2 separate regions of the Homo sapiens genome follow, and region 2 is linked to region 1. The links come from fine-mapping of genetic effects on gene expression. A gene starts in region 1. The other region holds a variant in brackets. All regions are shown on one strand. Distances are from middle to middle.

Region 1 (11,176 bases):
GTGTTGGGAGGATCCAGAAATACAGAACAAGCCCCTCCCTGGAGGGACCTCACAGGAGACCTGCTGGGCTTTCAACAAGAAAGGCTGGCCAGGCGTGGTGGCTCACACCTGTAATTCCAGCACTTTGGGAGGCCGAGGCGGGCGGATCACCTGAGGTCAGGAGTTCCAGATCAGCCTGACCAACATGGAGAAACCCCCGTTTCTACTAAAAATACAAAATTAACCAGGTGTGGTGGCATGCGCCTGTAATCACAGCTACTCGGGAGACTGAGGCAGGAGAATTGCTTGAACCCGGAAGGCAGAGGTTGCAGTGAGCCAAGATTGCGCCACTGCACTCCAGCCTGGACGACAAGAGCGAAACTGTCTCAAAAAAATTTAAAAAAAGAAAGGCCAACTATTTGACCTTGTGGTTTTCAACTATTTCAACTATTTTACCTTGTTTTTCTTTCACAAATTTTCATTAGATCCCTTACCCTCTCTCTGCCACTCTATTATGAGGGGGGAGGGGGATGAAAACTGTTGGATAATATTCAACCCCGTTAGCTGCCCACGTCCCACCTGTCCCTCAACAAGTCTCCAATCTGGGTCCTTTTATGGTTCCCAAAATGTGGCAGAAAGGTGGGTGCTGGCCTTCTGGCGATGGGGATGTGGGGACAGTAGATGCACGACCGAGTGGGCACAAGGTCCCCCCACAAGTCCCCCCAGGAACCTGTCAGCTCCAGGTCCATTTTGGGAAATCACTCCTGGAAGAAATAGCAGCCTGGCCTCCTGGGCTCTAAAATTGCATCTCGGTCAGGCACGGTGGCTCATGCCTGTAATTCCAGCACTTTGGGAGGCCGAGGTGGGTGGATCACCTGAGGTCAGGCGTTTGAGACCGGCCTGGCCAACATGGCGAAACCCCGTCTCTACTAACAATACAAAATTAGCCGGGTGTGGTGGCGAACGCCTGTAATCTCAGCTACTCGGGAGGCTGAGGCCGGAGAATTACTTGAACCTGGGAGATGGTGGTTGCCGTGAGCCGAGATTGCGCCACTGCACTCCAGCCTGGGCAAAAAGAGCGAAATTCCATCTCAAATAAATAAATACATAAATCAAATAAAATCATATCTCCCCAAAGCCAGCACCAACAGGGTGGAAAACCCCTCTAGATGAGGCAACATTTTAAAGTAAAAATGCTGCCCATCCCGTGTTCCCTGGGGGCTGGGGGTTGTGGCACGATGACTGACCCTGATACATCCCCATGTCCCTGCCTCGTCCTCCCCTCCCTTAGCAGGTACATGGTCCCCAGACATCTGACGGATGCGTGGGCCACCCTCGTGTGGTTTCCAGGGCAGGGCCAGCCCGGGGAGTAGAAGCAGGAATCGAGGGGGCAAGGGAAGCCCCTTCTAGTGCCCAGGCAACTCTGAGATTATTTTTTTCAGACGCATCTCATTCACTTCAAAGCAACATCACCTGTCCCTGTGGGGGACTCCAGCTCCGACCTTTCCTCAGGCCCACCTCACACGTTCGCTGCTTTGGCCCACATCACGTATTTCCTTTTTTTTCAGAGCCATTTCTTAAATTATAAAGGCATTTGAGGCCGGGCCCAGTCAGCTCACACCTGTAATCACAGCGCTTTGAAGCCAGAGGGTCACTTGAGCCCAGGAGTTTTAGATCAGCCTGAACAACACAGCGACACCCATTCTCTACAAAAAAAAAAATTTAAAAATTAGCCAGGCATGGTAGCGTGCACCTGTTGCCCCAGCTACTTGGAAGGCTGAGGCAGGAGGATCTCTTGAGCCCAGGGGTTTGAAGTTGCAGTGAGCTATGATGGCGCCCCTGCCCTTCAGCCTGGGCAACAAAGTGAGAGACCCTTTCTACAAAAATAAATAAATAAAAATCAAGTCATTTGAGTCAAGATGCCGAGAGCTGGTCACTTCCAAGGGAATGCTGGCATTGAAAAGGGGACCTGCAGTGTCTTAACCCCAAAGAGGGAAATCCAGAAGCTGTGATGGGAGCTTTTCCACGCAAACAGAGTGGGTATATGATATTGAGGGACCTGAAGCCCGCATGGGTCACTGCTGCTGCCTGAGGCCACCCAACCAGTCTGTACTACCCTGGTTGGGCTTTGCTCTCCCTCCCCACTTTGGCTGGGAGGCAGCATTTGGCCAGGCTGTGGACAGAGAGGTGCATGGATGAGAGACCACCTCCTCCCTTATCCCCCTAACTCCTGGCACCCCTCTCCTCCCCATCCCCTCCCTGCCACCCCAGCTGAGAAGCGTGGGCCTGAGCGAGGCTGGCAGGTAGCAGGGACATTCGGCTGCATGCTAATGGCCAAACAGCATCTGCAGTGAGACAGACGCATGTTATCACGCAGATCGGTTGCCAGGGGAATGGATCAGGAGGGCAGCCAGCTGGGACTGGGAGGGGGGATGGGGGGCAGGGAGGGGCTGTGTCTGCTGCAGACATTGCTGCAGACACTGGCCCAGCTCATGGGAGCCCGCCGACTCCCCCACCACCACCTGCCAGCTCCAAGGACACTTTTTCTCAGTCTGTTTTTTCAAAATCAGGTGTGTCACAGCCCCTGGGTGATGCTGCCCCTGTTCCTCAGGGGTCTCAGGGATGGCCAGGACATCCAGGGTGGAAATGGACCAGGAAGCCTTTGCCAAATGTGGCTGAAGGAACCAATCACAGGGCCTGGTGCTCTACCCACCAAATTCATCTTTCCAGGCCGGCGTGGTGGCTCACACCTGTAATCCCAGCACTTTGGGAGGCTGAGACAGGTGGATCACCTGAGGCCAGAGGTTCGAGACCAGCCTGGCCAACATGGCGAAGCCCTATCTCTACTAAAAATACAAAAATTAGCCAGGTGTGGTGGCAGGCGCCTGTAATCCCAGCTACTTGGGAGGCTGAGGCAGGAGAATTTCTTGAACCCAGAAGGTGGAGGTTGCAGTGAGCCAAGATTGTGCCACTGCACTCCAGCCTGGGTGACAGAGCAAGACTGCATCTCAAACAAACAAATTCATCTTTCCATGTTTGGGAGTCCATGTGACATGGAGTTGGGGTATGGAGCAGCCAAGGCAGAGGTTTAGGGGACTCCAAGGGCCCCCCAAGTCACCCAGAGCTCAAGGGGCAAAAGCAAAAAGAGATGGGGCACTCACCCCAAAGCTTGGCCCATGGAAGAAACACCTACCTTTTCCAGCAACACAGCATGTGCAGCCCTGAACATTCTAGAAAATGGCTACACCAGTCCTTTCACACAGAATATGCAGACTACCCAAAACACTTCCAAAGAGTACCTCTAAAGTCTGGATAACACAACCCAGAATTAATTAATAGTCCAGTACATGGACTTCTGACTTACAAATCCCTGATTCATGGACTCCAGAAAGGGGAAGGGTAGAAAAGTCTCCCCGACGGGTGAGGGAGAAGATGTTTCCCAACTCCACTCTTAGCCACTGTGATTTTGACCACATCAAGGGTGCAATTGGCTAGAATGGGAACCACACATGATTTCCAAATAATTAATTCACTTTTGTTATTATTTTCTTTTTCTTTTGCAATTTAGGACACATTGAAAATCTCTGACACAAATCAACCTGATGGACAAGAGACCCCTTTCCTGTATTTCCAGGAGGAAATAGGTAATCTTGTCCAAGTGCAATTCCCATAAAATTCGTCTAATTCATCCCTGAGTTGCAGGTTTTCTTTGACCTCATGGTTTTTCTTTCACAAATTTTCATTAGATCCCTTGCTCTCTCTCTCCACCGCTCTTTTATGAGGGGGGAGGGGGTGAAAAGTGGTGGATAGTATTCAACCTTCTTAGCTGCCCACGTCCCATCTGTCCCTCGAATAGTCTTAAATCTGGGTCCTTTTATGGTTCCCAAAATGTGGCAGAGAGGTGGGTGCTGGCTTTCTGGCGGTGGGGAAGTGGGGGCAGTAGACACACAACCCTGCTTCCCCCACTCCCCCACCCACACACACACCCCAGGAACCTGTCAGCTCCGGGTCCATTTTGGAAATCACCACCAGAGAGGAAATGGCAGCCTGGCCTCCTGGGCTCTAAATTCGCATCTCCCCAAAGCCAGCACCAACACGGTGGGAAACCCCTCTAGATGAGGCGACATTTTAAGGCAAAAACGTTGCCCATCCCGTGCTCCCTGGGGGACTGGGGAATTGTGGCGCGATGACGGACCCTGGCGCATCCCCGCCTCCCTGCCTCGTCCTCCCCTCCCTTAGCGGGTGCATGGTCCCCAGGCATCGACGGATGCGCCGGCCACCCCCGCGCGGTTTCCAGGGCAGGGCCAGCCTGGGGGGGTGGAAGCAGGAATCCAGGGGGTGCGGGGAGCCCCCTCCAGTGCCCAGGCGACTTTGGGGAACAAGGATGAAAGGAGAGGGGAAAGGGCGCTGCAGTGGCCTCAGCCGAGGAGGGAGATGCGCGCAGGGCGCACGGTGCCACCTCCGCAATCCCTGCTCCCGGGCCCACTCGCCCGCTGAGACGGTTCCAGGCCCCGGGCGGGCTGCGGCTGCAGGGAGGCCGGATTGCCCAGCGCCTTACCTGCGGCCACCCCTGCCGGGGCCCAGGGCAGGAGGCAGGCAAGCCAGAGGATGCGGCCGAGGCGCGACCACACTGCCTGGGCCATTGCGGGGCCCGGAGCGGGAGAAGCGTGGGGCGGACGCGGAGGGAATGCAGCTGGAGCTCGAGAACTGCGGCGGTCGCTCCTCCGGGCGCGCAGCGCGGGCGGTGCGGGGAGGTGCGGGCGCCGTGCTCGCTCGTCCTCGCCGGGGGACGCTCTGTCGCTGCGCGCCGCCGCCGCCGCCCACAGCCCGCTGCGCGACCCCGGCCCACGTCAGCCGCGCCGCGCGCCCTCCTCCTCCTCCCGCCGCCCCTTGCTCCCGCGTCCCTCTCCACGGCCGCGTCCTCCCTCTCCGGGTCTCTTCCCACGGCCGCGCCCCCTGCCCTCCTGGAGTCCACGATCGCCCCTCCCAGCTTGCTTCCCCTCTAGGGGTTCCAGAGCTCCCTTCCTGCGCCCTGGCTCCTCCCCGCATCCCTCCCCACCCCAAATCCACCCCCGGCCGCATCCTTCCCCTCCACTACCCGAAACCACGCCCCCCGCACCCGCATTTTTCCCTTCCCCCGAGCCCCTCCCCGCCCTGGATCCGATGCCGCCGGCTCTGACTCAGCGTCCCCAGGGGCGTGCGCTGCGCTGCAAGCCGCCTGCAGGTCCCTTGGGGCTCTCCTCCAGGTGCCTTCTCTCTGCACGCTCGTGGCTCCGAGATGCTACTCCTCATTCAAGAACTGTTGAGAGCTTAAGGTGCGCCAGGCGTTGGGCGAAAGGCCTCGAAATTCCTCTTGCTGCTGCTGCTGCTGCTGCTTCCTCTTTTCTTTTTTTTTTTTTTTTAATCTTGAGACAGAGTCTCGCTCTGTCCCAGAATGGCGCGATCTCGGCTCACTGCAACCTCCGCCTCCCGGGTTCAAGCGATTCTCCTGCCTCAGCCTCCCTAGTAAGATGGGATTACAGGTGCCCGCCACCAGGCCTGGCTAATTTTTGTATTTTTAGTAGAGACGGGGTTTCACCATGTTGGCCAGGTTGGTCTCAAACTCCTGGCCTCAAGTGATCCTCTCGCCTCAGCCTCCCAAAATGTTGGGATTACAGGTGTAAGCCACTGTGCCCAGCCTCTTGCCCCTTCTTGATAGAGGGGCCTGAGCACCCGGCCCCTGCCGTGGGCTTGATGTCATCCCCCGGTTTACCCTCTCACAGCTGCTGTTAAGATGGGGCTCCTGCTCGTATCTGGGCCCAGGGCAACTTCTTTGTCACTGAGGGCCTTGTGGGAGTCAGGCTACTGCGGTGAGGGGTGACCAGCCTACACAGTTACTGCCATTTGCCTTAGAGGAGCAGGGCTGGGCTCTCCTAGAAGCTGGAGGGGCCTGGCTGGCCTTAAACGCTGGAAGCCCGGTGGGTTCTGGTCCCAGCTATGCTTCCGCTTTGCTACGGCTACCTGGGCGAGGGATCCTCCCACACAGTGAGGGCCTTTGACCTCCTCTCTGGCCCGTGGAGCACGGATGGACCATCACTGCACCACCCAGTGCATTGACATCAAGGCGTCTAAAGCAGGGGTCTCCAAGCCCCTGGCCGCCAGTACCAGTCCATAGCCTGTTAGGAACTGGCTGCACAGCAGGAGGTGAGCAGGGCCTGTGAGCCACGCTGAGCTCCACCTCCTGGCAGATCAGCAGGGCATTAGATTCTCATAGGAGCGCAAACCCTACTGTGAACTGCTCACGTGAGGGATCAAGGTTGCGTGCTCCTTATGAGAATCTAATGCCTGATGTTCTGTCACTGTTTCCCATCATCCCCAGATGGGACCATCTAGTTGCAAGAAAGCAAGCTCAGGGCTCCCACTGATTCTACATGATGGTGAGTATGTAATCATAATAGAAATAAAGTATACAATAAAAGTAATGCGCTTGAATCATCCCGAAACCATCCCTCCAACCCCTCATTCGTGGAAACATTGTCTTTGGTGCCAAAAAGGTTGGGGACTACTGGTCTAAAGGGCCCCTGGCTCTGGGACAGCTGTGAGCTTCCCTAAGAATGGGCCCCACTGGCCCCACTGCTATGTTCAGGGAATGGAGGGAGAATAGATTTGAGTGAGCCCCTATGAAAAGTTAAAAGGGCTAGACAGGGCAGGGCATGGTGACTCACACCTGTAATCCCAGCGCTTTGGGAGGCCGAGGCGGGTGGATCACGAGGTCAGGAGTTCGAGACCAGCCTAACCAAGATGGTGAAACCCCGTCTCTACTAAAAATACACAAATTAGCCAGACTCGGTGGCAGGCGCCTGTAATCCCAGCTACTTGGGAGCCTGAGGAAGGAGAATTGCTTGAACCTGGAGGCGGAGTTTGCAGTGAGCCAAGATTGCACCACTGTACTCCAGCCTGGGCAACAGAGCAAGACTCCGTCTCAAAAAAAAAAAAAAGTTGGGGGGGTCGGTTGCGGTGGCTCACGCCTGTAATCCCAGCACTTTGGGAGGCCAAAGCGGGCAGATCATGAGGTCAGGAGATCGAGACCATCCTGGCTAACACAGTGAAACCCCGTCTCTACTTAAAAAAAATACAAAAAATTAGCCGGGCGTGTAGTCCCAGCTACTCGGGAGGCTGAGGCAGGAGTATGGTGTGAACCCAGGAGGCAGAGCTTGAGTGAGCTGAGATTGCACCACTGCACTCCAGCCTGGGAAACAGAATGAGACTCCATCTCAAAAAAAAAAAAAAAAAAGTGCTAGACGGATGTCACCCCCTAGTGGCATCAACTGTCACGGTGGTGATAAATACCAGGCCTAGGAACAAGGGGACTTTGGGTTCTCCCTGAGAGTTACAGGACCTTGGAGAAGTCACTTTCCTCCCTGCTAATGTTTTAAAAATTATTTTTTACAGAGATGGGATCTTGCTAGGTTGCTCAGACTGGTCTCAAACTCCTGAGCTCAAGCGATCCTCCTGCTTCAGCCTCCAGAGTAGCTGGGACTACAGGCATGAGCCACCATGTCAGTCCCCCTTTTTCTTTAAAATGGGCATAATAATAGTCCCAACACCATGAGACTATTATAAGGATAAAAGGAATTAACACGTAGAACACAGCTTAGGACATAGTAAAGGGTTCAATCAGTGTTGGGTGTCAAATGGGAATTGCTGAAGGACTTGGGAGGAATTGGCTTGTTCAGCAGGACTTTGAAGCACTTGAGAAGAAAACAGTCAAGCTTGCAGAGTTGCAAATCTTTAAGACGGTTTAACATAATTGGAAGGCCAGGTCGTTCCTGCTTTTTAAAAATGTATCAAATAGCATAAGATGTATTGTTTCTAAAATGTGTAACTTTATTTCACTGAGTAATAATTTTACAGTAGCCACAGTGTTACAGAAGCCACCTTCAAGGCCACCCTGAAATTGATGCTGATGCCACCCTTTGGCTAATTCCTTTTTTTTTTTTTTTGAGATGGAGTCTCTCTCTGTCACCCAGGCTGGAGTGCAGTGGTGCGATCTCGGCTCACTGCAAGCTCCGCCTCCTGGGTTCACGACATTCTCCTGCCTCAGCCTCCCAAGTAGCTGGGACTACAGGCGCCTGCCACCACGCCTGGCTAATTTTTTTGTATTTTTAGTAGAAACGGGGTTTCACCGTGTTAGCCAGGATGGTCTCGATCCGCTGACCTCGTGATCCGCCCGCCTCTGCCTCCCAAAGTGCTGGGATTACAGGCGTGAGCCACCGCACCCGGCCAGCCCTTTGGCTAATTCCTGTTTGCCACCCAGGATTTTCTTTCCTTTTTTTTTTTTTTTTTGACGGAGTCTTGCTCTGTCACCCAGGCTACAGCGCAGTGGTGTGATCTCGGCTCACTGCAACCTCTGGCTCCCAGGTTCAAGCAATTCTTCTGCCTCAGACTCCCAAGCAGCTGGGATTACACACACCCGCCACCACGCCTGGCTAATTTTTTGTATTTTTTTTTTTTTTTTTTTTTTTTTTTTTAGTAGAGATGGGGTTTCGCCACGTTGGCCAAGCTGGTCTCGAACGCTAGACCTCAGGTGACCCACCCGCTTTGGCCTCTCAAAGTGCTGGGATTACAGGCATAAGCCACCGCGCCCGGCCAGGATTTTCCATAGGCGTTACTCTTATCCCATCACCACCACCACCACCCTCACAGTACCCATCTCTGCTCCATCCCATAGCAGACTGGGAAGCTTCACTCTTCCAGGGAGTATCTGATAAGGGAGGGGCAGGAAATCCTCTCAGAAGGCTAGGTTTCCTTTTCATTTTTTTCTTTTCCTTTTATTTTTTGAGATGGAGTCTCAAAAATGTTGCCTAGGCTGGAGTGCAGTGGCACGATCTTGGCTCACTGCAACCTCTGCCTCCTGGATTCAAGCGACTCTCCTGCCTCAGCCTCCTGAGTAGCTGGGATTACAGGCATGCACCACCATGCCCAGCTAATTTTGGTATTTCTTAGTAGAGATGGGGTTTCACCATGTTGGCCAGGCTGGCCTCGAACTCCTGGCCTCAAGTGATCTGCCGCCTCTGCCTCCCAAAGTGCTAGGATTACAGGCGTGAGCCACTGTGCCCAGTCCATAGAGCTAGCTTTTCTTTTATTTTTTCTTTTCTTTTCTTTCAGAGAGGGGTCTCTTTATATGTTGCCCAGGTTAGTCTCAGACTCCTGACCACAAGCAATCCTCCCACCTCGGCCTCCAGAGTAGCAAGGATTACAGGTGTGCACCACCAAGTGCAGCTTGGCTTTCCTAAATTAATGTTCTTGGCTAGAAACAGAATTGGAGCCATGTATGTAATTTTAAATTTTCAAGTAGCCACAATTCAAAAAAGAAAAAGAAATAAGTGAAATCAATTTTAATGCTGTTACAAAACTCAACATATTCAAAATATCATCTCAACACATAATCAACGTAAAAATGATCAATAACCCGGGAGCAGTGGCTCACGCCTATAATCTCAACACTGTGGGAGGCCGAGGCAGAGGAGGCCAAGAGTTTGAGACCAGCCTGGCCAACACGGGGAACCCCAGTGGCAGGTGCTGTAATCCCAGCTACTCTGGAGGCTGAGGTACAGGAATCTCTTCAACCTGAGGGGCATAGGTTGCAGTGAGCCAAGATCGTGCCACTGCACTCTAGCCTTTTTGTTGTTGTTGTTGTTGTTGTTGTAAGGGTTCACCATCTCGTGTGCATTTTACGCTGAGATTTCATCTCCATTCAGATGGGCCACACTGCACATGGGGCTAGTGGCTACTGAAGTGGAAAGCACAGCACTAAGTTGCCTGGGTACAAATGCGTCTGACCATCCCAAGAGTCTTCCTGGTCATCCTCCTTTTTTTTTTTTTTTTTTTTTTTGAGACAGGTTCTCCCCCTGTTGCCCAGTGTGAAGTGCAGTGACACAATTGTGACTCACAGGTCACTGCACCCTCTAACTCTTAGGGTCAAATGATCCTCCCACCTCAGCCTCCCAAGTAGCTCAGCTAATTTTTTAGATTTTTGGTAGAGATGGGGGTCTCACTATGTTGCCCAGGCTGGTCTTGAGCTCCTAGTCTCAAGTGATCCTCCTGCCTCAGCCTCCCAAAGTACTGGGATTACAGGCATAAGCCACTGTGTTCGGCCTCAAGAGTCATTTTTTTTTTCCCACAAATTCTCCCAGTCTAGCCTATAGGGGCCACAAATACCTCTTACCGGGGTGACTTTGACCCTCCTCCCAGCATCCTCGCCTATGCCATGTGTCTGCGTGTCTGGTACTTAGCATGTAGTTTGGTGCAAAGTAGATGCTTGTGGAATGGCTGAAAGAATAAGATGAGGCCTCCCCTTGATAACGCCCCCAAAGCCTTGAACATGACTCGGTGTTGGAAACCATTTGTCGGTGCCTTCTCTGGACTGACCTTGGACTGCTTTCACAGACACCATCTCATATGATCACAAGGCAGCACAGAGGGGACATTCTCTCCCCTGGCGAGGTGAGCATCGGTCAGAACAGACACTGAGGGCAGCCTTAACAGGCAATGCCTGGGGCCAAACGTCCAGAACAGTAGCCACAGGTAAGGGTCTGGGACCTGGGGACAGATCAGATGTTGTGAACAGTCAGACCTCATTCGCCTGGCTCTGGGGGGGCGGTGGGGGAGGGACGGTGGCCTGTTTTGGTTAATTAAATTTTTCTGGGTAATGAAAAGTTCACACTTCTTTGGTGTCAATTCTTGTTGATGAAACTCTTTCTAAAGCAAGTTAGTGTTAGTTGGTCTGTTGGCCCTAGCAAGGTGGTATAATCAAATCTTTGGTCATTCGAGGGCAGCAGCCCTAGGGTCCGTATCCCTACCACACATCCTCGTTGTCCTGCATTGGAAATTAACTATGGGAGGTGGGGGGCCGCTGGGCAGGTAACAATGACTCAGAATCAGCTCCTGGGAGAAGCATTTGGGGCTAAATCCTGGAGTAGCTTGGAGGGAGCAAAATGAGTTCGGGGATATCCTTTTTTTTTTTTTTTTTTTGAGATAGAGTCTTGCTCTGTCGTCCAGGCTGGAGTGCAGTGGTGCCATCTTGGCTCACTGCAACCTCCACCTCCTGGGTTCAAGCGATTCTCCTGCCTCAGCCTCCCAAATAGCTGGGATTACAGGTACCTACCACCACGCCTGGCTAATTTTTGTATTTTTAGTAGAGATAGGGTTTCACCAT
Region 2 (11,176 bases), 230 kb after region 1:
GTGAGTTCAATGTTAATGAATCCACGATATATAGTGAGTAAGGTATCTTTAAACAGAAGCACACATAAAACAAGGTTACATATTAATCAGTCGAAGACAATGTTGCAACTTGAGGATCACAGGACCCTAACCCCCTATTCCTCTGGGAACGATGGTTCAGGATTCGCTAATTTGGTGTTCGCAGCAATTTTATAGAACACACCTACTGAGAATAATGGGAATCAACAGTATAGTTCTCTTCCGCTGTCAGAGCTGGTACTCGCCACACCCCAGGAACTATACACAGACTAACACCAGTGGTCTTCACTCCCATAGCCTATATCACACCACCCATGAGACATTGATGGGGTAGGAGGGCGCAGAGGGAGGAAATGTAGCATTGCAATAATCTCACGCTGCTCCAAAAACGGAGGAGAGAATGCAAGCCACACACAAAAACACACACTGTTCCTCTCTCCTTCCCACTTCCAGAATTATAAGAAGGTTTCGTGTTCTCTGAAATTGTTATATTCTGGAAATGTTTCCCAAAAATGAATTACAAACTGGTTAATCACATTAAAAGCTGCCTTCAGCCTGGCGTTTTTGATCATTGTCAAATTTATTTTCCTTCCTTTTCAAAGCCACTCTCCTACTTTGCTTTCAGCTCTAGCTACACAAAGGAGGTGAGAAAATGGAAAGGATTAACGCCACATTGAGTTTTATCCTGGAAAATAAAGATTCTCCTGGAATTTATCACTAAAAAGTCAATAAAATGCAACAAAGCAACCACTCTATAATGACATTACATTATTGCCAAATTGCCAGAGTCCTATAGAAATGGCACCCAAGTCCTAAGCAATTTTTGCAGTTTTACGCCTATAATTTCCATGCAAAAAAAAAAAATCATTTTATGCCAAACTAAGAATAGTTTATGACTACTTTCCTCCTTGTATAAAGAGTTTCTCTTTAAGACACTTTCCTTATTTAGAAAACTTAACCTATGACAAAGTATGGCACTCTATATATGCACTTTTCTATATATATATAATTTCAATTTTAAAAAACTATATATGGGATTAGAAGCCAATTCTTCAATTATAAATTGATCATAAGTAAATTTGCTAAAACAAAAAGCTTTACAATCTAAATGTTCAAGATTTGATAGACTTTCTATGTTGTAATATATTAATTTGAATTTTCAAAACTAACAAATAATGAAAGTCAGTCGTAGGTGTCATTAATAGCTCAGTTGAAATTTACGCACAAGATTAACAAGACTGAAATCAATTAAAAGAAATTATTTGAAACTGTATTTGTGTGTGTGCGTGATGTGTGTGTAACTATATATGGTCAAAATTAAAGTCCGCTAATTGTTACCTAAAAGTGACCTTAACTATTTTAGGGAACCAAACCAAAAATATTAGAAATACAATTAGGATCACACTAAAAATTTATAAACAACCTCTTCTGTAAGAAAGAAAAGTCAACAAGAACAACGAATAGCTTTCTATATCACAAAGAGAATGTCTCTATTAATTGAAAACACTCAATTTTTGAATGTTTCAATGAATTAATTCAAATTTTGAACAAGTTTAGGGCAATATATATCAACTTAAATTTTAAATAACTCCACAGGTAATTTTAAATAACTCCACAGGTAATTTTAAATATACAGCTCTGGCTAACTCAATACATCTGAAGTCACTTGAATTTATCATAAGCCCAGGAGACTAACAAATGAATATAAGCAGTACAAAAGGGAATTCAACTTAATTCAAATACCATCTGTTCTGTTCTGCTTCTGTAACACAGATGAGCTCATGTTTGATTGGTAAGTAGCAGTGACATCTTATAGCATGGAAGTCACACTGATTCATTTGAGAGTTTCCTAAGCAAAAAAGTGGAGGGAGTGAAATGAAAATCTTAGGCAAGAAAAGGAAAAAAAAAAAAACTGTCACCTAACTTGGCCTTAGCAAGAAGCTGTATTTTAAGAACAAAGCAACCACCCTATAATGACATTAAATCATTGCCAAATTGTCAGAGCCCTTTAGAAATGGCACCCAAGTCCCAAGCAGTTTTGCAGTTTCATGACTAAAAGTTTCATGCAAAAAATTATTTTATGCCACGCTGTCAAACAGCCTACAGCTGGGTCCCACTCCCCAGACAGCGCACCCACAGCCAGCCAGAGGCTCCCTCAGTTTGGCTACCTGCACTGGCTCCATCAATGGCCACTATCACAGGAGGCCCAGGGCTCAGAGTTCCACTTCTGTGTGCACTGTCTCAACATCCACCGCCCATGTACCAATTCAAGCATTGCCAGGTTTCCATGTTGCTGTTTTTGTTTATTTTATTTTATTTTATTTTATTTTACTTTTGAGATGGAGTCTCACTCTGTCACCCAGGCTAGAGTGCAATGGCGCGATCTCGGCTCACTGCAACCTCCGCCTCCCAGGTTCAAGAGATTCTCTTGCCTCAGCCTCCCGAGTAGCTGGGATTACAGGCATGCGCCACCATGTCCGGCTAATTTTTGTATTTTTAGTAGAGACGGGGTTTCACCATGTTGGCCAGGCTGGTCTTGAACTGCTGACCTCAGGTGATCCACCCACCTCAGCCTCCTAAAGTGCTGGGATTACAGGCGTGAGCCACCGCAGGCGGACTGTTTTTTTGTATATTTTAGTATCCATTTTAGCAACATCCAGCCACACTGAGATGCCTGCTTGGGTGGTCCAGATAATCTCTTAAGGTAGCAATTATGGTTTTTGCTAGTAGTTACCAAGTTGCAATGATTTTGAGAGACCAGCTATAATCTTACTTTTCCCACAAGACACTTATTATTTTTAGTGTATTGTTGTGCAGAATGTATGGTTTTTCAGGGACATAAATTTTCCATCACAGCAGAAACACCAGTGAGTATTTATCAAGTGCCTACTTCCTATGCACAGGCAATGGACTAGGTACTCGAAGTTAAATTTAAGGACCTAAAAGAATATGTTTTCTTAAAGATCTCAACTTAGCCACGGGGGCCTGGGGGAGATGAGAATTGCGCACTTAGCATTAGTTTGCTAGGGCTGCCATAACAAAGTACCATCTGCTCAGTGGCTTAAACAACAGAAATGTATCGTCTCACAGTTCTGAAGTCTAGAAGCCTGAGATCAGTGCCTGAGCCTGGAGAAAACCCAGATGTCCAGCTGCTTTTTTGGCCCTAGGGTCACATTTGCTGAAAGGAGTCCTTTTAGAGTCTGGAGGATGAGGGCTGGAGTCCTTTAACTTCCAAGAATGGGGTCCTGGGGCATTACCTATCAGTGTGGGCTAACCTTCAAAGGGGCAGCACCTTGAGGGTACAAGTTCAGACAGCAGCCCAGCTTCACCTCAGCTGAGTGACCAAGAAAATCTCAAACCTTGGTCTACTGTGAACAACTTTCACCTACAAATGACCAGGACGCCTAAATCATGGGGTAAACCACCAACCAGGCTCCAGGTGGCCACCTGGTAAAATACAGACAGGTAACAAATAGCACTGCAAAGGTTTTGAAAACAAGTGACATTGAAACCACAACCCGCAAAAGGCTAGTTAGAACAGAACACATGCCCTGAGCTCAACTAGGTCAATGCCTGCTAAACAAATGCGTCAATATTCTCCACAGTATTTACACAAGACACAGAGTCTCAGAACATAATAACCAAAATGTCAAGGATAAAATCCAAAATTACTCAGCATATAAAGAACCAGCGAAATTGCAACTCACATGGGAGGAAAAGATATGCCATGCAAACACTAATCATAAGAAAGCCTGAATGGCTATATTAATATTCAACTTCAGAGAAAGAAAAGTGTGGGAGATAAAGAAAGACAGTACATAATAATAAAAGGGTCAATTCACCAAGAAGATATAACAATCCTATATGTGTTTGTACCTAACAATAGAGCATCAAAATACATAAAGCAAAAACTGACAGAATTGAAAGAGGCAAATCTAAAATTACAGCTGGAGACGTAAAAACTCTAATCAGCAATTGACAGAGCTAGTAGACAGAGTCAGCAAGGATATATATAGAAGAACTGAACACCATTAACTAACGGGATCAAACTGACATTTATAGAATACTCCATTCAACCACAACAGTGTACATATTCTTTTCAAGTACAAAATGGAACATTTATAATAGAAATCGTAGCAAACTGAAAGGGACTAGAGTCATACGATGTATGTTCCTGACCATAATGGAATTAAACTAGAAAGCAATGTGAAAAAATAACAGGAAAATCTTCAAACACTTGGATAGTAGACATCACACTTCTAAATAATCCATGGGTGACAGGGAAGGTCTCAAAGGAAATTAGAGAATATTTTGAACTGAAAGAAAAAAAAAAAAGTTTGTGAGATTCAGCTAAACTTAGAATGAAATTTATAAGATTAAATGTTTTTATTAGAAAAGAAAAAAGTTGCAAATCAGGCATCTAAGCTTCTACCTTAAGAAATTTTAAAAGGAAAGCAGAATGAACCATTGCAATCATAAACTCTAACTTGAGCTTCACTGAGTACCAAAAAGAGGGGAGAGAGAGGGAATGAGGCAAAAACAACAGTGAAAGAGGTCACGGCTCCGAATTTTCAACAGTGATTGCAGTGGCTTGAATGTGCACCCCAAGGAGTAAATGTTGGAAACTTCATCTTCAATGCAACTGTGCTGGGAGGTGGACCTCATGGGAGATATTTAGGTCATGAAGGCTCTACTCGCATGAATGGATTGATGACATTAAAAAAGGGCTCGAGGCTGTGAGTTCAATCTCTTGCTCTCTCTCTCACACATGTTCTCTTGCCCTTCCATCTTTCACTATGGAATGACGCCACAAGAAGGCCCTTGCCAGATGCTAGCACCCTGATATTGGACTACCCAGCCTCGAGAACTGTAAGAAATAAACTTCTTTTATTTATAAGTTACCCAGCCTGTGGTATTGTGTTATAGCAACACAAAACAAAGACAGTAATGAATGGCTTCGAAGACAGTAATGCACTTCAAAAAGCCCAAACAGGATAAATGAAAAGAAATACACACCTGGTTACTTCACAGTGAAACTGCAGAAAGTGAAATACAAAGATAAAAATATTGAATGCAGCCACAGAAAAAGGAAAGATTACTTTCCAAGTACGAGTGACCAACTTCTGAAATGCCACAGTGAAGATTTGAAGACAGAAATATCTTCAAGAAAATAACTGCTAACCTAGAATTCTCTACCCAGCAAAAATAGCTTTTAAGAATCAAGAGAAAAATGAAG[ATCTTTT/A]TCAACAGACAAAACCCAAGTTAGCCACCAGCAAAATTTTCACTGTCAACATCAAGAACTGCTTTTATTGAAAACACATAAAACGGAGAAAAAAATCCCAATTAGTAAATTATTATAAAGTAATTCTACAATAAAGCTAAATTTGCTATAAGAATAAACAAAATCATCTACACCCTTCTCCTTATTTCAGGAGTTAAATCTGATCCTCACATTTTAAATCTAACAGATAATTACCTAATTTTCTGGTAAGGTAAAGAAACTGAGATGGAAGCAGGGGAGACGATAAGATTTTAACCCCAAAATGAGCATTTTCCTATGGGCATTACAAAAGGTAACTGAGTTAGAAGGACCTCTGTTTATGAACATGTTAACTGGCTGGGAGGGAAAAAAAATGACTCTAATCAAAGAGAGAGAAGTATGCATATAATAACAAAAGACAGAATGGTCTCACAGTGTAAAGAGAACTTTTTTCAATTTGACAAGATCATGCCTATGATATCGAACAGTGCATTTTCTCATTTTCATCACTAATTGACTCATATTTCTTCCCCATTGCAACAAACCTTAGCTCCGTATTCACAAGCCCTCTGCTTGGAGCTTCATTGACAAAGAACAGCAGCATACAAAATAGCACCACAGTGCACTGAGAAATGTCACCAAACACTAAGCTATGGGGCAACTAAAACTGGACAGATTTATATTTGTTCTATGTCTGGTCAAGGGAAACTGCAGAATTTAGCTGAATAATACACTATTTCCATTCAGACACATGTTAGTGACTTTCGGCCCTCTGATCATCTTCCCTCCTCATTAAATTATAAGATCCTTTAAGGAGGTTACTCTGCATCATTCACTGAAAACAACATTTAATAAGCGCTTTGTGCCAGGCCCTGGAATGGAAATGATTGAGATCCCTCCTTTCATCTTTGGCAGCAGCAAAGACAAGGAAATAAATAATGTGAATAGCGTTATGAAGACACTGTGATGGGAAGACAAGAAGGAGTAACTAGGGAGTAGATCATTCTATAGAAAGAACATGTGTAAAGACATGTTTGAGAGGCAGAATGCATTCAGGGAAATGTGTTTCTATGGAAGGTTTGGTTCAGGAACAAGAGGAGACTAGAGCCCGATGAGAAAAGGTCTTCTATGCAATGTTAAGGAATTTGGACTTTGCCCTGGAGGCAATGAGGAGCCAAACACTACTACTTTTTTTTTTTTTTTTTTTGGAAAGCTATAAACTCTGGCACGGGAGTAGAAAATGAGAAGGAATGGAGAGAGGCAGGAGGCAGGAAGTTGACCTCTTTGGTGGCTGTTTCAATAGTCGAGGGAGGTTTTACATTGCTTTGCTGTCACTCCACAGTATCTAACACAGGGTCTAACACATAAAAGAGAACAGTAACACTGAACTGAATTGATTCTAAGAAGAAAATACCTAATTTCTTACAGAGTGGTTTATCTGCTTTCTAAGGTCCGTGCAGTAATTCCTTTCCCAGGATAGGGGGGGAAATGCCATTATCATGTACACGCTGGCAAGACCACTGCTGTGGTTTGGTCTGTCCCCACCAAAACTCATGTTAAAATTTGATCCCCACTGTGGCAGCGGTGGGAGGTGGGGCCTATGGGCCTACTGGGAGGTGTCTGGGTCATGGGGGTGGAGCTCTCATGAATAGATTAATGCCTTCCCACGGGAGTGAGTTCTCACTCTCACGGAATGGATTCATTCCCAAGAGGGTGGGTTGTTCAGAAGAGTCTGGCTTCCTTGGTTTCTCTCTCTGGCCATGTGGTTTCTTTGCACACATCATTTCCACTTCTGTTTTCCAACATGAGTTAAAACAGTCTAAGGCCCTCCCCAGATGCAAATGCTCAGTCCTGAACTTTCCAACCCCCAGAATCATGTGCTAAATAAACCTCTTTACTTTATAAACTATCCAGTTTCAGGTATTCTGATACAGCAACTCTAAACGAACTAGGACAGCCACCAGTGCCTTTCACAGCATTCCAAATATACAGTCAAATCCCCGGAGAATCCTGGTTCTCACAGGTTTTTTGTGTGTGTTCATCTTATCACATTTACAGTAATCTTAAAACCTTTAGTGGGAAAAGTTAAAAAAAAAAAAAAAAAAGCTGCAAAGCAAAATGCTCTGACCCCAGAATGCCAAATATATACTTTTAACAATATAAACTAAGCAAAAGGAAAGATGTTGTACTCTACCTAGTAAGAAAGTAAGAACGCATCCAGCAGTTAATTTCAATTTAAAAACGCCATTCCGGCCCTGCCCAATGGCTCACGCCTGTAATCCTAGTACTTCGGGAGGCCGAGGAGTGTGGATTTCCTGAGGTCAGGAATTAGAGGCCAGCCTGGCCAACATGGTGAAACCCCGTCTCTATTAAAAATACAAAAATTAGCTGGGCATGGTGGCGGGCGCCTATAATCCCAGCTACTCAGAAGGCTGAGGCAGGAGAATCGCTTTAACCTGGGGACAGAGGTTGCAGCGAGCCAAGATCGCACCACTTCATTCCAGCCTGGGCAACAGAGCAAAACTCCATCTTGAAAAATAAACAAAAATAAAAAAATAAAAATAAAAATGCAGTTCAGAATTCTCAGCCCAACATCACAGAAATATATATCCAGCTTTCCCAGGAGACTAAAGCAGATTTATTTGAATAAATTTTGTATCTTTGTTAAAACAACAGTTATCAACTCATAGTCATAGCTTATAAGTTAATACTGGAAACATTCTATCAACAGTCAAACTGAGACTTAAAACAGAAGACTAGAGAAGGAAGATTTCATGATGTGAAGTGAAGAGATGAAATTTAGACATATACATCTTACAAAGCAACAAGAATATTCAGAGTCAAAGAGAGATACAATAATTCTTACCAAATTTTAAATCCAAAGCCGAGAAAGAGTGTTTCAGAGATAAGCAAGGTGGAGAAAAGAACACTATACATAATGAAGTGATTTTGAGACTTTTCTTAAATGGAGGAAAAGGTGACCAATTTTTAAATGCATTCGATAAGTTTTCCAGCCATCTCTTCATTTTAGAACTGAATCCAGTTTTCTGGGAGGCTACCAATGAACTTGGTTCTTGATAAGGAACAAAACTATTATTAAGTTCTGAAGAAATATGGGGGGGTAGGGAATAGTGAAAGGAATGTCCCATCCCCGGCCTGGGCAACATGGCAAAATCCCATCTCTACAAAAAAATACAGAAATTAGCTGGGTGCAGTGGTGTGTGCCTGTAGTCCCAGCTACTCAGGAGGCTGAGGTGGGAGGATCACTTGAGCCCAGGAGCTCGAGGCTGTAGTGAGCTATGATTGCACCACTGCACTCCAGCATGGGTGATAGAACAAGACCCTGTCTCAAAAAGAACAACAACAAAAAAGAATGTTCCATTCATGTAACATGCAGTTTCTACTAATTTTAAAACTGAGCTACAGTGTTCCTGGCTCATATTTGGAGCAGAGATTTAAACAGCAAAAAAATACCCTACCAGAGACATGCACAATTAAATTTCAAACTGAAACACAATAAATAGATTTAATTTATTGCCCAATGTGTAATCACTTTTCGTAAATGGAGGTGGGAATTCCACATCTAAAGGTCTAGACATTTTAATCTCACCCTCAAGGGAAAAAAATGATACACACGGCCGGGCATGGTGGCTCACGCCTGTAATCCCAGCACTTCGGGAGGCCGAGGCAGGCGGATCGCCTGAGGTCAGGAGTTGGAAACCAGCCTGGCCACTGTAGTGAAACCCCATCTCTACTGAAAACACAAAAATTAGCCAGGCGTGGTGGTGTGCGCCTGTAAGCTATTGGGAAGGCTGAGGCAGGAGAATCATTTGAACAGGGAGGCGGAGGTTGCAGTGAGCCGAGATTGTGCCATTGCACTCCAGCCTGGGCGACAGAGCACGACCACGTCTCAAAAAAAAAAAAAAAGATACATACAAAACAAGGGAATAATTTCATTTTTCTTATTTTGCATTTCCATGTCTAGGCACATTCAAAGACTTTTAATGTGATATTATGATGCACATTTGAAATTTTCAAAGACAAGGCATTGTATATTGGCTACCCTTTTATATGGGCATACTAGGATTACACATTTTGATTCCACTTAAATTTGTACTATATATAAAAGATAGGTAAAATAGGATCCTATACATAGTAACATGGAATTTTTATATTTTTATACATTCTAAAATCTCCCTAATATTATGATGAAATTATTTCAATATTTTGTTGTTCTTTGTACATATTAATATCCTACGCATCTGTCTCTAAAGAGTTTTGAAAGAGAATTTATCCACTCAATAGTTAAAATGGTTAAAATGGCAAATTTTATAATGTGTATTTTGCCAAATTTACAAAATGAATAACTGAATATACCCAAAACCACTGATATTTACACTTTAAAGGGGCAAATTATATGGTATGTGAATTCTATCTTAATATAGCTGTTTAAAAAAACTTACAGAGCCCTCTTCCAGAAAAGCTGCCTTGTCAACACTTTGATTACTCATTATGTGAAAATACAAATATTGTTGATTCTGTGTCAAACGGATGATTCAGAAGAGATGGACACTGACTGTGAAGAAATGTTAAGAATTCCTTAATCTATTTTTCTTATACTTTTAAATTATGTATATACAAGAATAACACATGCAAAAAATCTATACTTAAATAAGTGGCTCTTTCAATGTTATAAGTAAAGGTTATAGATAATTAGAAAGCATCAACATTATTTGATTCATAGCATTTTTTCTCTTTTGGTGGTGCACGTAATTGTAAATCTTACAACTGCATTTTTTTGGTTTTTTTGTTTTTTTGTTTTTGAGACACAGTCTCACTCCGTCACCCAGGCTGGAGTACAGCAGTGCGTCTCCAGGGCTCAAGCGATCCTCCCACCTCAGCCTCCCAAGTAGCTGAGACCACAGGTGCGTGCCATCATGCCTGGCTTATTTTTCTATCTTTAGGGGAAATAGGTTCTCACTATGTTGCCCAGGCTGGTTTCAAACTCCTGAGTCAAGCGATCCACCCACCTCAGCCTCCCAAAGTACTGAGATTACACGTATGAGCCACCACACCCGGTTACAATCAATTTTTTTTCTTTTTTGGTGGCACATGTAATTGTACATCTTACAATCAATGTGGTTTCAGATTCTGAGTTGAGACTTAGCAAAAAGGAGGAAGAAATAGAGACATGGAGCTTCTAATCTCTAAACACCTATGTATACACCACTCCCAGCACTGTATACATACGCCTGTGTTCATACACATGTGGCCCTTTTCCTAAGCCTCCTGTGAAATCAAACACATTTTCATTCCAATAAAGCAATTTCTGGAAAGTTATAAAAGACACCGGGGAAAGGTATTTAAAATGAATACCATTTTGCTAATTAACTGTGTTTACTATTACAATTACTAAAATAAATGTACTCCCCTTATGTGACGGTATGACAAAGCAGGAATCTGATGGACATATTATGTCAATTACTCATTTGAATCCATGACTCAGAGTATTTTAAATATACATATGGAAACCAGAGTCTTTTCATAACCAGACTCTACAAACAAGAAATGTGTGCCAAGACGTGACAAACACAATCTTAAAAAGCTTCACAGATTTAAATCTTCCATTTAAAGCACAACTTATTTTATCAATGCTTTTATGTAATCCCCAAAATACAGCAACACTGAGTTTAAAATTCCAAAGATGTTTTCTGGTTTCAATGATGGAAATTGCTTGTCCTGTCTACAATAAACACACACAGTAGGACACAAAACTTCAAAGAGAAAATTCATATATTGATGGAGACAATTTTTGAAATTTTCTTGTCATATATGAAAAGCAATTTGTGATGGATATCTCCGGGCCACAACTTTTTTTTTTTTTTTTTTGAGATGGAG

Direction of the effects. Alleles are on the strand shown, and positions count from the first base shown. SD is a standard deviation of normalised expression in the study named.
For the expression in tibial nerve of the gene that starts at base 4,775 in region 1, allele ATCTTTT in region 2 goes with a lower level than allele A (moderate effect, 0.71 SD a copy in GTEx).

The links. PIP is the estimated chance that this variant, and not a neighbour inherited with it, causes the effect.
Region 2: its variant is fine-mapped to the expression of TMEM130 in tibial nerve (GTEx, PIP 0.91).

Annotation. Positions count from the first base shown.
Region 1 is chr7:98,865,240-98,876,415 of GRCh38, forward strand. TMEM130 (transmembrane protein 130) reads right to left here and starts at 4,775. Exons shown (of 8, transcript NM_152913.3): 1 at 4,538-4,775. The coding sequence starts at 4,622. RefSeq lists enhancers at 3,673-4,259, 4,260-4,845.
Region 2 is chr7:99,092,744-99,103,919 of GRCh38, forward strand. All of the region lies in intron 1 of SMURF1 (SMAD specific E3 ubiquitin protein ligase 1), which reads right to left. Among named protein-coding and RNA genes, the nearest start is that of SMURF1, 46 kb to the right of the region's middle. RefSeq lists enhancers at 5,629-6,483, 6,484-7,337, 9,779-10,978. The variant ATCTTTT/A (reference allele first, on the strand shown) is at 5,255.